Regions from separate parts of the Homo sapiens genome. Here regions 2 and 3 are each linked to region 1. Evidence: fine-mapped QTL for protein levels in blood plasma. A gene starts in region 1. Each other region holds a variant in brackets. All regions are shown on one strand. Distances are between the middles of the regions.

What was found. PIP is the posterior inclusion probability: the model's chance that the variant is causal. Protein levels are from antibody-based Olink assays in UK Biobank. Linkage for the fine-mapping came from a reference panel and not from the study's own genotypes, which makes the PIPs less certain.
Region 2: its variant is fine-mapped to the plasma level of the CTSO protein (UK Biobank, PIP above 0.99).
Region 3: its variant is fine-mapped to the plasma level of the CTSO protein (UK Biobank, PIP above 0.99).

What each region holds. Positions count from the first base shown.
Region 1 is chr4:155,951,083-155,956,315 of GRCh38, reverse strand. It overlaps CTSO (cathepsin O), which reads left to right and starts at 2,450. Exons shown (of 8, transcript NM_001334.3): 1 at 2,450-2,603. The coding sequence starts at 2,469. RefSeq lists an enhancer at 1,045-1,339.
Region 2 is chr4:155,923,748-155,928,980 of GRCh38, reverse strand. It overlaps CTSO (cathepsin O), which reads left to right. Exons shown (of 8, transcript NM_001334.3): 7 at 553-645; 8 at 2,911-4,863. The coding sequence ends at 2,945. Among named protein-coding and RNA genes, the nearest start is that of TDO2, 23 kb to the right of the region's middle. The variant C/G (reference allele first, on the strand shown) is at 2,114.
Region 3 is chr4:156,022,352-156,027,584 of GRCh38, reverse strand. No RefSeq gene overlaps it. Among named protein-coding and RNA genes, the nearest start is that of CTSO, 71 kb to the right of the region's middle. The variant C/T (reference allele first, on the strand shown) is at 2,003.

The DNA.
Region 1 (5,233 bases):
CTTAATAGATGATTCTGATCTCCCTTTTAACTGACCCAAAATTCTTCACAATCTGTGCGCTTCTTACTTATCTCATATTCTACTCTCCCCCATCCTTTTTTTTTTCCTTTACTCCATCCATGCTGACGTCTTTTATGTTTCTGGAACGTGCCAAGCAAACTTCCATCTCAAGGCCTTTGTGTTGACAGTTCTTTCTGTCTTAGCTTCTCTTTCCCTGGATATCTGAATATCCATGTGGCTCACTTTCTTCTCCTTCAAATCTTTGCTCAAAACTCTCCTCATCAGTGAGGACAGTATTGAACAGCTTATTTAAAATAGCAGTACCACCCCTCACACTGATGATGCTCCTTATCTGGATTTATTGTCCTTTAACACATGTACAAGTTGAGCATCTCTAATCCAAACACCCAAAATACTCCAAAATCTAAAACTTATTGAGTACTGACATCATGCCACACCTAGAAAATTTCACACCTGACTTCATGTGGTGGGTCATAGTCAAAATGCATTCAAAGCCTTGTTTTATGCATAAAATTACCTAAAATAGTCAGTAAGATTACCTTCAGTCAGTAGCATAAGTGAAACACAAATGAATTTTGTGTTTAGACTTGGGTCTCATCCCCAAGAGATCTCATTATGTATATGCAAATATTCCAAAATCTGGGGGGAAAAAATCTGAAATCTGAAACACTTCCAGACCCAGGCATTGTGGATAAGGGATCCTCAACCTGTAGTAATTTTATTGCGTCTCTCCCCCTCACTGAAATACCAGCTTCAACAGGGTGGGGCTTTTCATCTCTTCAGTCACTTATGCACTTCCATCCATGATGTGTCCTGATGACCTAGAACAATGCCTGACACTTAGGAAGTACTCAATAAAATATTTGTTGATGTAAATCAATTGAAATATCAGTCCCATAGGGATGGGGATTTTCATCCCTTTAGTCACTTATCCACTTACTTGATATATCCTCATTACCTAGAAGAATGCCTGACACTTAGCAGGTACTCAATAAATACTTGATGTGAGCTCCTGAAATGAGTTTAGTTCAAGGGGCTTTTTTACAATACCAATTATCCTAAAGTAAAGATGACTGCCTATATTTAAATTTCCTGACTCCGTAGGTTGTCAATAAACAGGGACTATGATCTGAAAGCAAAGTTCAGTTTAAAAAGAAAAGTATGTGCTTGTATGAGTCACAAAAAAGGGCTAAGTACAAAAGAACTGCTGAGGTAAACATGAACATCGTTCTGTGAACTTATGATTTAAATAAAATCTTTATCACCACACTTGCCAAGAGCAATATATCTTATCATGAACGTACATAAAAAACTCTTGTGTCTTTCCTCTTAATACTCGGAACATTATTTTTATTTTTATTACGAAGTTTGCATTGGAGAATATTGTAACTCACTGCACCTAGGTAAAAACTAAAGACATAAATCTGATGTTAGTTCTAAAAATCTACAAGGGTAATGATATGAATTTCACAGACATGGAAGCCTTGTTCAGAATAGATGATAATAGAAAGGCTCGGTAGAGCCAGGTTCATGAGTGTGTGACCTGTGCAGAAGTGGGTGCTTAGAAGGCCCATGGCTTGGGTTAATGCTCTGCTGTTGCCGTCTTGAAATTCTTCACAATTTATGAACAAGGGAACTTCATTTTCAGTTTACACGGAACCCTGCAAATTATGTACTTGGCTCTATCTTCCTTTGCAAACGGAGAAACAGGCTTCAAGAGTTTTGAAACTGCCATAATAGATCCAAAAACTGTGTATGCTTTTCACATCTGTACAATTTTGTTACGTATTTATAAACATCTGCTGAATGGATGACTCTATGTATTGGCCCACATCACTTCAGAACTAGGTCTTGAACTTAGGGATTGTGGCAAGAAGGAAAAAGGCAGCTTCCGGTGGCTCACAGGGCAGGCCAGGTGGCTCACACCTGTGAGCATTTTGGGAGGCCAAGGCGGGTGGATCACTAGAGTCCAGGAGTTCGAGACCGGCCTGGGCAATATGGCAAGATCCTATCTCTACTAAAAATACAAAAATAGCCTGGGGTGGTGGCACGCGCCTGTAGTCCCAGGTACTCCGGAGGCTGAGGCAGGAGGCACTTGAACCTGAAGGTCGAGGCTGCAGTGAGACCTGATCTCAACACACACAAAAGAATGACTCTCAGGCTTCTTTTTTTCTAATGGATGGAAGTGAAACCTCGAAAGCACATGGTCAAGTGCCTGACTCTTCCAAAACAAAAACAAAAACAAAAAAACTAGCCTCAGCAAGGAGGTCCGTAGCCTCCAGCTGACCGGATTTTCAGTCACAGAACACCGGGGACCTAAAAAAGGGTCAATCTCAGCATCGTGCACTCAACCCAGCTCCTTCCGCCCCTCGAGCCCAGGCTGGGAGGAGCCGAGGAACCGAAAGAGAAAACAGGCCGCGCGGGCGGCAGAGGAGCCGGGCGCCGCAATGGACGTGCGGGCGCTGCCGTGGCTGCCGTGGCTGCTGTGGCTGCTGTGCCGGGGCGGCGGCGATGCGGACTCCCGCGCCCCCTTCACCCCGACCTGGCCGCGGAGCCGCGAGCGTGAAGCCGCCGCCTTCCGGGTACCGAGCGCGCGCCTCCCCGGGATCTGTCCCTGCTCCCTCACTTCCTGTCCCGGGTCTGGGCTGCGGAAGAGGGCCCCCGAGAGCTGACCCTGCTCGTGGGCACCCGTGGCTCTGCGATGCGTCTGGGGCCCTGAGCTGCGGGTGCAAAAGCCAGCTTCTCTCTCCCCTCTCCTTGTGCCATGGTGTCACTCCCCCATGCCTTTGCTAACCAAAAGACTTGATTTTCCAGAAGAGATTTGTCGCTATGGATTTTTGGGACGCACCCAAATAAATCCATAGATACGTCCAAAGTGTCCTTGGTGGGAAGAAGCACCCCCTTTTAGCAATCCCCTCTATCGTTGCCACTGGCTTCCAAAGCTCTTCTATTTCTCTTTTATGAGAACCAGAAACAGGGAGCAGCCTGTTGGTGGAAGAAACCTGTCGTGTTTTTTTTTCCCGAGGAGGGCGCTAGTGATCAGAAGTTAGAAACAAAGAGCCTGTCTTTAGCCAGATTAAAGAATCCTGATGGTTTATGATTCTCCTTAAACTAACGCACCACTTTAAAAGTTCTTCCTGCCTTGGCGGAGACTGAGTTGAAGAAAAGAGAAGCATTTAATTTCCTTTTCATATTATTATACGAAATATAATATAATTTATATTTTATAATATTTATAATAAATACTTAGATTTGAGTCTAGCATGAAAACTCTGGAAGGGACCAGTTAGCTGAGCACAAATAATGATTTTCCTGAAACCAAGGAAACTGCAAGGGATGCCGATTTAGTGTTCGCCTCACTATGTTCTAGATAGCTGATACTATTTAACACATTTTTAAATTCATGAAAGATGCCATTATCATGATTTAATTTATTGGAAAAGAAAATTCTTTCATTCTGAATCAAACATAAGTCTGAGTTGAGTAATATTGCTCAAGGAAGTGTATCTTTTTTCCTGGTGTTTGTTGGAATTTCTCACAGGATTTCATAGCTGTGCTCTTTTCCCCCGACTCTCCTGGAAAGCTCCAATGTTTAGGAAGGCCAGCCTTCCCTGATTCTGTCCACTCTTACGTTTTGTCCAAACCGAGATGTGTACTGTTATCTCCACTTTATTATTCTTGAGTTCAGTTCTAGCTTTCAAAACCAGAAGTCCTCTTACTCTTTCAAGAACAAAATTCTGGCCTGTATTCTACCCCTATCCTCAACTTACGTTCGTTTTCCTGGTAAACGAAACCCCTTAGGGGAAAAGTCAGTTTCACCTTTATTGGTAACGTATTCATTGGCTAAATAAATAAACACACTGTCAGGCTCCTAAAAATAATATTTCAGGACAAAGCTCAAAGGGCTAGACTTATAAATATATTTTTAACATTTATTTAGATTTTAGATAATTTATAAATATATATGTGTATAATTTATGTAGTGACTCATACTGGTCCTGTAAAGAGGCCATACCCTGATGAATGTCTAGAAAATGTAACTTTTCTCAGGAGAAATACAAAGAAACAGGTTGAAAGATGGAAAGTTGGAAGTGGAGGAGGATCGAATTATGAAGACTCTTAGTACATTTTAAAAACCTCGGGTTAAGAAATACTGAAAAAATTTTCAAAGCAATTGCTGCCTGTAAGAATTTGCTTCATGAGATGGATACCCAAAAAAGAGAACATTGAGGCTTCAACGCACAGTTGCTGGAAACTGAACACCTCTCGGTGCTTAGTTGGACTTTATCCAAGAATGCTTTAAAACCGATTTTCTACCTTAGTGGTCCCCAATCTTTTGGCACTAGGGACCGGATTCATGGAAGACATTTTTTCCATGGACGGGAGGAGGGAAGTGGGGGAGATGGATGGATTTGGGATGAAAGTCTTTCATCTAAGATCATCAGGAATTAGTTAGATTAGTTAGCTGGAGATTGCTGTTCGGACTTGGGATAGAGAGCTGGACAGTGGGAAAGGTGGAAAGGGCCTTGCCTCCTTGGTAACCGTGAAACTTCTTGTTGAAATCAAGTTAATTCATTGGTGAATTGATGATTCAGGGGTTTGCAGCTGAAGATCTGGTTCAAGAAAGTCCTTGATTAATTAGTAATGTCTTTCATGGTCATGGGTTTAGAGAATGGTGAAGGTTTTAAAATTTGTTTTAATCTTAGCCTTAGATAGTTTTGTAAGTTTCCCAGGAATGCACGTTAAATGAAAGTTAGGTTAGCCCATGACTTTCCCACAAAATATTATAGTATTGTTCAGTGAAAACTAGACTCCACTATGGTTTATTATGGGATGCCTCACAAGACACCTGACTTTGGATGGCACCCCTTATCTCTGCACTTTCACTCCTTTAGAAACTTCCAGTGCTCAGGAAGCTCTTAACTATTGGATTTAGCCTACTCTCCTTTGTGCCAAAACCTAGCTATGCCCTCATATTTACTGATGCTCATTATTTTACCACAGAACATTTGGTATTCTTATCCTTTTGGGAGGCACAGACCCAATATTGGATCCAATAAAATTTGCTTGATACACTCACTTTAGAATAATATCTATGCCAAAGTACATGTGATTTTACATAAAATTTCCAAAGCTTTACCTTAAGACCAGTTGCCGTAATGACACAGGTTATATTATTATAAGATTATTTATATATTTAGGAATATTTATT
Region 2 (5,233 bases), 27 kb after region 1:
GGGCGTCATGGCCATCACGAACATGTCACAGTGCTGCAGAGATTTTGCTTATGGCCAGTTTTGGGACCAGTTTATGGCCGGATTTGGGGGGCCTGTTCCCAATGTAAATGTCTTGTCAGATTCCACCTGTCAATTTTTGAGTGGATATCCTGTTAAAATGATGATAATTTTTGTTGATATAAAACTGTATCGGGAACATTTAGAATAATTGTTGGGAAAAGGTAAGTGCATATTATTTTATCATACGTATCTAAAAGTTCTTTTTTCTTTTTCTGATTCCTTGGAAATTAGTGTTTGTTTTCATTTTATGCAGTCCCTGTATAAAGGGAAGTGAATTCAAACATATATTTCTACTGATTGGAGAGTGTCCGTAAGTACTGCTCAGGTTTACTTAGTTAAAATAAAGTAGTTTAAGTTACCATTAAATTACATTTTTAATCTTCTTCTCAGAGCTACTATCCTTAGCAAGAATCCAACTTAAAATAAAGAAACTTAAACATTCATAACAAATTTGAGTTTTCAGGATTTGTTACTATTTATGTTTCACTGTAGGAAGCACTCCATATTGGATTGTGCGGAATTCCTGGGGAAGTTCTTGGGGAGTAGATGGTTATGCCCATGTCAAAATGGGAAGTAATGTTTGTGGTAAGTCATGAGTTTGTGTTTAAAACCTCAATATAAATATTAAGGAGATTATTTGAATATTTTAGAGTTACAATCTACTCAAACCACTTTAGCAGTAATAATTTTTGTCCTTTAACCAAATGATAAAAAAAAAAGTGTTTTGCAAGAGGAACTGTTAAACATATTAGTATTTGAAAAAGGAAGAGGGACCTTAGTAAAAAATATATATTACATATATATCTCAAAACATAAGATAAAGTAATAATTTACCAAGGTTAATTGCTTTAAAAATGAGATAAACACACAGCTTAGGAGACTGGACTCCTGCAGAAATGTCTTCTTGTTCCAAATTTACATTTCATAACTATAAATTTTTCTTAATTTCTGTATTATAATATCTGCTCAATGATTATCAAGAGTTTTTCTTTGTTTTAAAATATACGAAAACTAAGCATTAGTATTGTTTGTGATTTAATATGCCCCTTGCCACCTACAAAATTCTAGCAAAACACCCACTAGAATTGAGAGGCTTAGGCAAATACCAAACATGCTTTTTTATTGAGTGACAACTTTTTTTTTTTTGAGATAGAGTCTCGCTCTGTCTCCCAGGCTGGAGTGCAGTGGCATGATCTCGGCTCACTGCAAGCTCCGCCTCCCGGGTTCACACTCTTCTCCTGCCTCAGCCTCCTGAGTAGCTGGGACTACAGACTCCCGCCACCACACCTGGCTGATTTTTTGTTTTTGTATTTTTAGTAGAGACGAGGTTTCACCGTGTTAGCCAGGATGGTCTCAATCTCCTGACCTCGTGATCTGCCCTCCTTGGCCTCCCAAAGTGCTGGGATTACAGGCGTGAGCCACCACGCCCAGCCTGAAACACAACTTTTTAAATGAACCACCAACCAAACTAAAATAGCTAGTTAAGAATTTTAACCGTGTTATAAAACTATATTCAAACCTATATTCTAAAACTTTTGGTCTAGAAATCAACATATTTTCTGAATCAAGCTAGACCCAAACTAAGTTACATATTAGAGCAATCATGTCATTTCTTATTATAATTTGTTCCAACATATATACAATTTTTTTAAATGCAGAATCTTTCAGATTATGAGACTGATTAAATAGTTACAGAAAAATTTGAAAGTTTATGTTCAATGACTATTAACCAATCATTCCATAAGGCAGAATCCATGAGAGTTCATGAGTGATCTGTTCTATCACCCTGATGAGACAGTTTTTATAAGTTATTCATTGAAAAAAGTCAACATCACAGAAATATATTGGCCAGAATACTAGCAACCCCATCAGGCCTCCACTTTTCAGCATCACTGGGGACTCGTACATCTTTGGAACTTGCAGATAAATGACTGATGCTAATCATTAACCCTTGCTGCTGAACATATATTATGTCCGACTGCAGCAGTGGTGGATCCTGGATTTGGGCTGAGGGGTGACTGCTTTCAAATCTCTTACAGGAGTGTTAAAATAA[C/G]ATAATTCAAATATTGGTTCATAATTGCCTCAATTATAACTACGTCCCTCACCACAACCTTTCTCCATCCCTCAGCTACTAAGGGTGAGTGGAGATAATTTCTGCTCTCTACCTGCTTTCATAATGTAAATCTTTAAGGGCATGCCTGGTTGGTAATCATACAGGGATTCAAATTCTTCCTGAAAGTGAGTATTCCCTGAAAGTTACAATGATGTCATATTACTCTTATGAGCAATGGCATAAGGCAGATAGTATTTCATAGCTGCAAGAGATTTCGAAGATACGGTTAGTTATAATAAAAACCAGTCTTCAGATAGGCTATTTATTGCTTTTGCCATGATGTTGCAATCTGTGTTCTCGTGTGTAAAGAAAGCATAGCACACTCGTGATTTATTAAAGTTTTACCCACATTCAAATTTTAGAATTTGAGTTATGAAATTGTATTTAAAATAATTTCTTAAGTTATTTTGCCTCTAAGAAATAATGTATTAGTTTAATACAGCTTCCAGATGCATTCATTTATTCAGTTAACAGGTAGTTTTTGTTGTGGATTTTTAAAATCTTTAAAATTATTTTAGTTTCTTCAAACAAAAATATTAGGCATACTTCTAATATGCCTAATCTCTTCTAATATCTGCTTTTGATGATACCATGTTTACATTGACAAGCTGTGATAAGCATTACATTATTTTCTCAGTAGATACTCTTTCTGAACCCAAATGAAAAATTGCTTTAATTTACAATTTCAAAAGCATCTAAAGAGGAAATAGACTAATAATTCCTTTTTTTTCCCTTAGGTATTGCAGATTCCGTTTCTTCTATATTTGTGTGACATGTTGGGCAGATCAAGAGACAGCTACAAAAATGAAGGTTTTCATAATGCAATGTAACATAGTACTTCAAAGTATTATTCAACTTCAAGTTTCAGCAACTACCTACAAAAGATTCTAAGGCCTAGTAGTATTTAAACTAAGTTTCAGAATGTTCCCTTCTTGTAGAGAGATGGACAACCAAAGTCAGTGGGACAAACTCCAGCACAGAAGCCTGCGAGGAAGCCTATGGAATAGTTTCCTGTCCTGAGACGAAATTCAGATTAGGAGATATTTTAGGCCCCTGCAACTGGGGAAGGCTACTGTTTGTTTTTGTTTGCTTATTATTTATTTGTTTGTTTATTGTGAGATATTTCAGGTGGGATCAAAGAGGTCATAAGAATTTATTTTCTTTTGTGGGGTGTAACTACTAGCTTTAGATTACCCCTATACACAAGAATGGCCAACCTAAAATTATGTGTGTCTTGTACAGTTAGTTATATTAGCAGCCCTCTGAGATGGCGTATCTATCGGAAGGATTTCAAACACCAATTGCTTTACCTGAACAAATGGTGCTTACCCTTTGAACAGCAGAGTGACCACGTAGAAGGAAGGAAAAGGGCAAAATCGCTTCAGTTAAACTGAAATTAAATGAACAATAAGGCAACTATATAAGTAACTTCTAGTAGCATTGCCTGAGAGACAAATTATTGTTTGATAATTTTCATTGTGAATAGGAATCCAATAGATCATATTGCTTACTTTGTTCTTTTTATACTATAGAATAATATTTTGTTCTCTAGTATATCAAAATACCAAAATATTATCTCATATTTTCTCCCTCTTTCTCTTACTCTTTACCAAGTTTTCCTGGTGGCTTGGCTTCCCTGACTAAAGAATTAAGTCTCATTTTTACTTTCCATTTCTATTTTCTTACCACTTGGTTGGCTCCCTTTGTCTCTGTACCTTTACCAACATTAGGATCTCACCTCTTTCTTCCTCCCTTAATTCATAAGCACCACTCCTATCAAAGTCCCATCTCTTAACCCTGGGTATCAAACAAACTGTGAGTTTTCCAGAATCTGTTTCCCAGTTTTCCCCTCAGCTTTCCTGGTCTCCCATCCGAACTGCTTCTTTGTGCACCTCTTGTTCTTTCTCTTGGCTCCCAGTCTTGATTCCTGTGATCACTCTTGCATCACTAATTGCACAAGTGATTTCAGGTGCAATTCTGATTAGCCTGCGTCCACACAGTGATCGATGATCCTATGTGCCTAGAAAGGACACTGTGTGCTGCTCATGACCTGCAACAGGAAAAAAGCCATTTCTTGTTAGCAGTGTAAGAACCTTAGAGCAAAGGAGTTGACCTTCTGATTGAATATAAGCACAACCATATTAAATGAATCAATACAAGAAAATTATTTCTGATACTATGTATGTACATATTTCTTCTCTAAAATGTATCATTCTTTTCTAATGTATATGATCTAACAAAAATGAAACATGAAATGCAGTAGCAACCACTAAAAAAAAAAATTCAAGGACATCTAACTTTTTCTCTCACTTTTGCCCTTTGTTTATCCTTCCCTGTGATTAGATAAACAAAATAAAAAACAAAATGCTGTATTTCTCTTCTTACGCCAGTCAGAACCAATCCGAAAAGAATGTGTGTTGACTCAGGTTTGGAGTTATTTCAGGAAGACAGATATTGACCTTTTAATTGATAAATATTCTTATTATCCTGGAATGCCAGAAAAGAACTATGTCCTGCTTGTCTAGTTTGTATTCGCTGACTTTCTATGTGATATAGATGCATTTGTAATACTCTTTTTCAAGTGCTAAAGGATTTCTAAAATTTCAAACTGATTAATATGTTTCTGCTGTTCTGGATTTTGATGACATTTACAATAAAACAACCTACATTTGACTTTGGTTTAAAAAGAACCTCTTCTTAAGTGTATGGCTTACATTTTGTCAACACGGTATTAATGTGCTTTATATTTACAGTTTTCTCAGCTCTAAATTAATATATCCAGCTTTTGGTTTTCTCCATAGGCACTTTAACCTCAGTGTTTCCGAAACTCCATTCGTCATCCTCCCTAACTTCTCCCACCACCCCCAACAAAAATTTCCTTTACCTCTAAGAGCCTCTATTTTGGTTAACAGAATCAACATTATGGAATCACCCAATCAATAAAATTAAGACAAATCCTAAACATTTAAGCAGGTCATCTGCACCTTGGTAACCCATCAATGAATTACCTACCTCCTGTGGCTACTGTCATTTCTTAGTTGCATGTTCTTTAGTGTCATT
Region 3 (5,233 bases), 71 kb before region 1:
TATATATTTATATACTATATATATTTATATATAACATATAATTATATAATAGAAAATGTAGTATGTGTATATATATTATACACATATGTGTGTATATACACACACACACACACACACACAACACCCCACATTTTCTTTATTCATTCATCCATTGATGGACACTTAGGTTGATTCCCTATCTTTGCTGTTGTGAATAGTGCTGCAGTGAACCTGATATTCTGATTTCCTCATCTTTGGGTAAATACCAAGTAGTGAGACTGCCGGATCGTATGGTAGTTCTACTTTTAGTTTTTTGAGAAATCTCCATACTGTTTTCCATAATGGCTGCACTAATTTACATTCCTGTCAACAGTGTATGAGTTCTTTTTCCTCTCCATCCTCACCAGCATGTTACATTTTGTGGTTTTGATATCTTAAAACTGCTTACTATCCAACTTCTACTGGGCCCTCCTAGCAACCCTTTGTTTCCCTTTATTAATGTTCCATTCTTAAGTTTAAAATGCCAGCTGTTACAAATCTTTTACTCAGACCTCCAAACTGCTCTGTTTCTCCCCTTCTTAAAACACTCTGGCCTCTACTTTGGCCAGTTTTCATTCTGAATATACACTTAGTTGAAAGATAACTGATCCTTGAACCTTCATCCCCCCTGCAACATACACTTCTGATTTGTACATCTCAGTCTTTCTTCAGAGTCTTGTTAGATTTTTCTCTTTGGGAGTCTCCTTACAAATACATTATCTTTGGTTTCATTGCATTTCTCTGACTTTTCCTTATTTAATAAGATTTTTATTGTAAAAGTTAAACATATTCATTGGGAAAAATATAAAACAAGTGAATAAAACAAAAATATTAAAGCTATTCGTGAGAGATTACTACTGAGAATAGAAAAATAGAATAAATAAATGTCTTCTTTCAAACCCCAAATCCTGCTCTCAATTGTGTTGCACTCCAAAGAGGCCTCTGAAGAAACATATTCATAAGAGATAAAGAAAGGCTAAGAAAAACATCGTGTTGGGCTTTAATCTACTGTACTGGGTTGTTCTTGCATTGATATAAAGAAATACCTGAGACTGGGTAATTTATAAAGAAGGAGATTTAATTGGCTCACGGTTCTGCAGGCTGTACAGTTGTGACGCTGACATGCCTCAGCTTCTCAGGAGGTCTCAGGGAGTTTTAACTCATGGCAGTAGGCAAAGTGGGAGCAGGGAAATCACACCATGAAAGCAGGAGCAGAGGGCGAGGAGGTGCCACACTCTTTTAAATGGGCAGATCTTGCAAGAACTCACTATCACAAATACAGCACCAAGCCATGAGAGATCTGCCCCATGATCCAAACGTCTCCCACCAGGCCCTACCTTCAGCATTAGGGATTACAATTCAATATGAGATTAGGGCAGGGCAAATATATAAACTATATCATCTACCCAAGCTCCAGGTATAGCTTGAACAGAGCAGGGCTAGAGGACTCTAGTTGCCTCAGCTATTGGCAGTTTTGGAATAGATGGACAAAAATCTAAAAAGATGCCTTGTGATAGTATCATGAGTCCTGTATCCCTTATACTGTTATCATTCTAAAACACCAGAGCCTATTCAACACTCTGGTTATATTGTAATTTAGTAAATCCCATTCTACTATTGTAAAACTAACTCTGTGGTGACATCCTGCTCTCCCATACACACACATGTACCTATTAGTCTTAGAGTTTGGAATAAATTCCTAGAACTCGAGATTAAGGGCATGTACACATGTTGGTTAAGACCCCTTCTCTTGCCAGTGAAAAACAAACCAACTCATTGGAAAATTGATTGGCTCATGTAGCTCAACGTTTTAGAGGTAGAATTGACTTTAGATGTATCTTTATGCTGAGTTGAAACAATGCCACCAGAATCCAACTCAGCGTTGCCTATTCTGAGTTATTGGCTTAATTCTCAGTCTCCTCGTGGTAAACACCACCCCCGACTCCAACCACCCCAGTGGCTTCAGATTTACATTATGGCAACA[C/T]GAAATCTAGCAGAATGGTTAGTTTCCTTGAGATTATAAAAGAAATCCTTAAATTAATCTCAACAGGTCTGACATAGGCTCTGCCTATCTCTGAATCAACCTCTGTCATCTTGTGGGCTGTTATTTTGTCTTTTTTTTGAGACAGCGTCTTGCTCCGTCTCCCAGGCTGTAGTGCAGTAGAGCCAGCCCAGCTCACTGCAACCTCCACCGCTTGGGTTTGAGCAATTCTCCTACCTCAGCCTCCCGAGTAGCTGGAACTACAGGTTGTGCCATCACGCCTGGCTAATTTTTGTATTTTTAGTAGAGACAGGGTTTCATCATGTTGGCCAAGCTGGTTTTGAACTCCTCACATCAAGTTATCCACCCACCTCGGCCTCCCAAAGTGCTGGGATTACAGGCATGAGCCACCATGCCGGGCCCGGGCTGTTATCTTTAAATTTATCAGCTGAGAGTGAGAGAAGGGTGATTTCCTAAAGGAAAATCAAGGCATAGTCCTTAGAAGGAGGAGTGAATTAATCTGTGGGACCCTAACAAACGTCCATGACAGGATTGCTTTGTGAGCTTTAGAAAACACTTGACACTAATATAAACTGAATTATAGTCAACATGGTAGTGAAAAAGAGAAACTTTAATTTTAATTGGCCCCATATTTGAAGCATTGACCTTATCTGAAGTGTTTGAATTTCTTTTTATCTAATTTTTTAATTACTTGCCCATTCCTGTCCTTTATTCAGCTATGGTTAAGGTATTTGGGGTTTTGACTCTGTTTGGTTTTTGTCCTGCTATTTCATGCTTTGAGTATTTTTTCTCATTCTTAGTATTAGGATGCTGCCTGATAATTGTCTAATTTTATTCATTTGTAGCACCCTTTTCTTTCTTTTTAACTTTTATTTCTGCCAAGAATCTCATAAGATTTGTTATTCTTGAAGTAAAAGTTTTGGTAAAGATATGTCTAGTTTTTGTTTTGTTTTGTTTTGTTTTTCATTTCTTTTAACACTTTTCTCACCCCTGTAATTGTACCTGGCACCTATTTAACTTTGTAGATCTGCAAATAGAAGTCAATATTCAGGATTCTCTCTCACATCCTGTCCTCGATCCACTGCTTATGTCTCTGAATATTTGTAATATTCCATTTTTTAATTTGTTTCTTAAGAAGACCCAATTAACCAATTAGGTATGTAGTTAGTATTTCTGTTGCCTTCCCTCTACATAGAAATATACTAATTTTCATCTTTGTCTCTTCCCCTGAGTTCAGAGAAAATTTATCATGTTTGTCCTTCATACCACTCATTTAGTTTTTACAGGGTCAATTCTGCCCTTTCTTGTTCTGGATGTATTTAAAAATCATAATTAATTTTTCTACTATAATAGATTTCTCCTTATTCCATTTTAGGATTTATTTATATTGCTGCCTATCTCCTTCCTACCTCCTATTTTATCACCCCTCTTGTAACATCATTTTTTTTTTTTACTAATATAAGCCACATTTCCTTGAATTTCATCAAAAGTTAAAAGCATTGCCCACCTAAAATACTGTTTTCTTTTCTATACCTCCTTCTTTATCCTCCAGAACTCTTTACACTTTTTTTTTTTTTTTGAGACAGAGTCTTGCTCTGTTGTGCAGGCTGGAGTGCGGTGGCACGATCTCAGCTCACTGCAACCTCCACCTTCCGGGTTTAAGAAATTCTCCTGTCTCAGCCTCCCAAGTAGTTGGGACCACAGGCGCACACCACCACCCCCAGCTAATTTTTGTATTTTTAGTAGAGTTGGGGCTTCACCATATCGGTCAGGCTGGTCTTGAACTCCTGACCACAAGTGATCCACCTGCCTCGGCCTCCCAAATTGCTGGGTTTACAGGCGTGAGCCACCATGTCTAGGCCACACTTTTTATTTTATTTTATTTAAAATAACTTTTTATTTTATTTTATTTAAAATAGCCCGCCACCATGCTCGGCTAATTTTATTTATGTTTTTATCATTCATTTAATTTATTTAGCCTGAAACTATCCAAACTAACATTACCTTTCAAATCAGGATGAGTGGATTTTCTCAGATATTCTTATTTTCCATTTGGACAATTTTAGATATCTTATTTATGAATGTAACCTGAAGTAATTGTTATATAATTTTTTTAAAAAAAAAACTACACTGAAAGGCATAAGGATTAAGCCAGGACAACAGGGAAAATAATGGACTGGGAAACACATTGCTCAGTTTTGTCTCTGTTGTGAGGCTGGACTCACTGCGTGTGTAGAAGAGGCACTACTGTTTCATCTCATCTTTAAAAGGTATTCATCAGTGAGCACAGTTCACTGTGATAATCCCTGCTCCCGTAGGACCACTGCCTGATCCAGGGACTCGACCTCAGTACAATTAGGATTGATCATTACTTCTTCCACCAAAGATAGCTTTGTGAACTTGTACAACAAACATTTTCAGAGATGTCACCATGACTATTGTAGATTGTCACTTCTTATAAGCTTGTATTCTGAAGCTGACCTACAATAACATGCCTTATCATTTATAACATATATTAATAATGAATCAATTAAAGAAGATTCAAAAGATTTTTCTGCTCTTCTTCCAGGTTCTCACTCTAGCTTTTAGCCCAAGAATGTATGTTGTATGTAATATTCTTTACGTATTTAGGGCTCAGAAAATGATACCCCCAAAATTTGGTGCTTTGACACACTGAACATTTTGAACTAAAACTGGAAGGCCTTAGATGCTGCTTCAGAATCAAAGTTTCTCTCTGACCTTCCCCCACCCCCTAATCTCTCTGATCTTCTTTCTTTCCCAAAGCACCAGCAAGGATTCTCTCTGGAATTTTTTTATCTGACTGGAGAAACTTATTTCCAGAAGAAATGCAATTTTCTTAAGACTCCCTCCCTAGGGATCTCACCAACTAACCAGGAAAGATTAACCACTGTAGAAGAGAAGTGACTGGGAGTTGTCACCATGTGCAGACAGACTTTTCATGTATTCTTATGGGGGCAACTCTGAGACCTTACCTGGGAGACTTTATCTGTATAATAAGACAACTTTGTTCACAGTGAAGTTCTATTCTTCACCTTCCACCACCACCCCCAGAGCTCAGAAGAACTTTATCCAAGGAAATTGTTCTTTGAGCTCATTTATTTCCTGTAAAAAATCATTTACTACCCTTCTAAAATTTCTTATAGCATCCCACTTCCCTCTCTCCTGTGAAGAAGGTATATATAAGTCTCAATA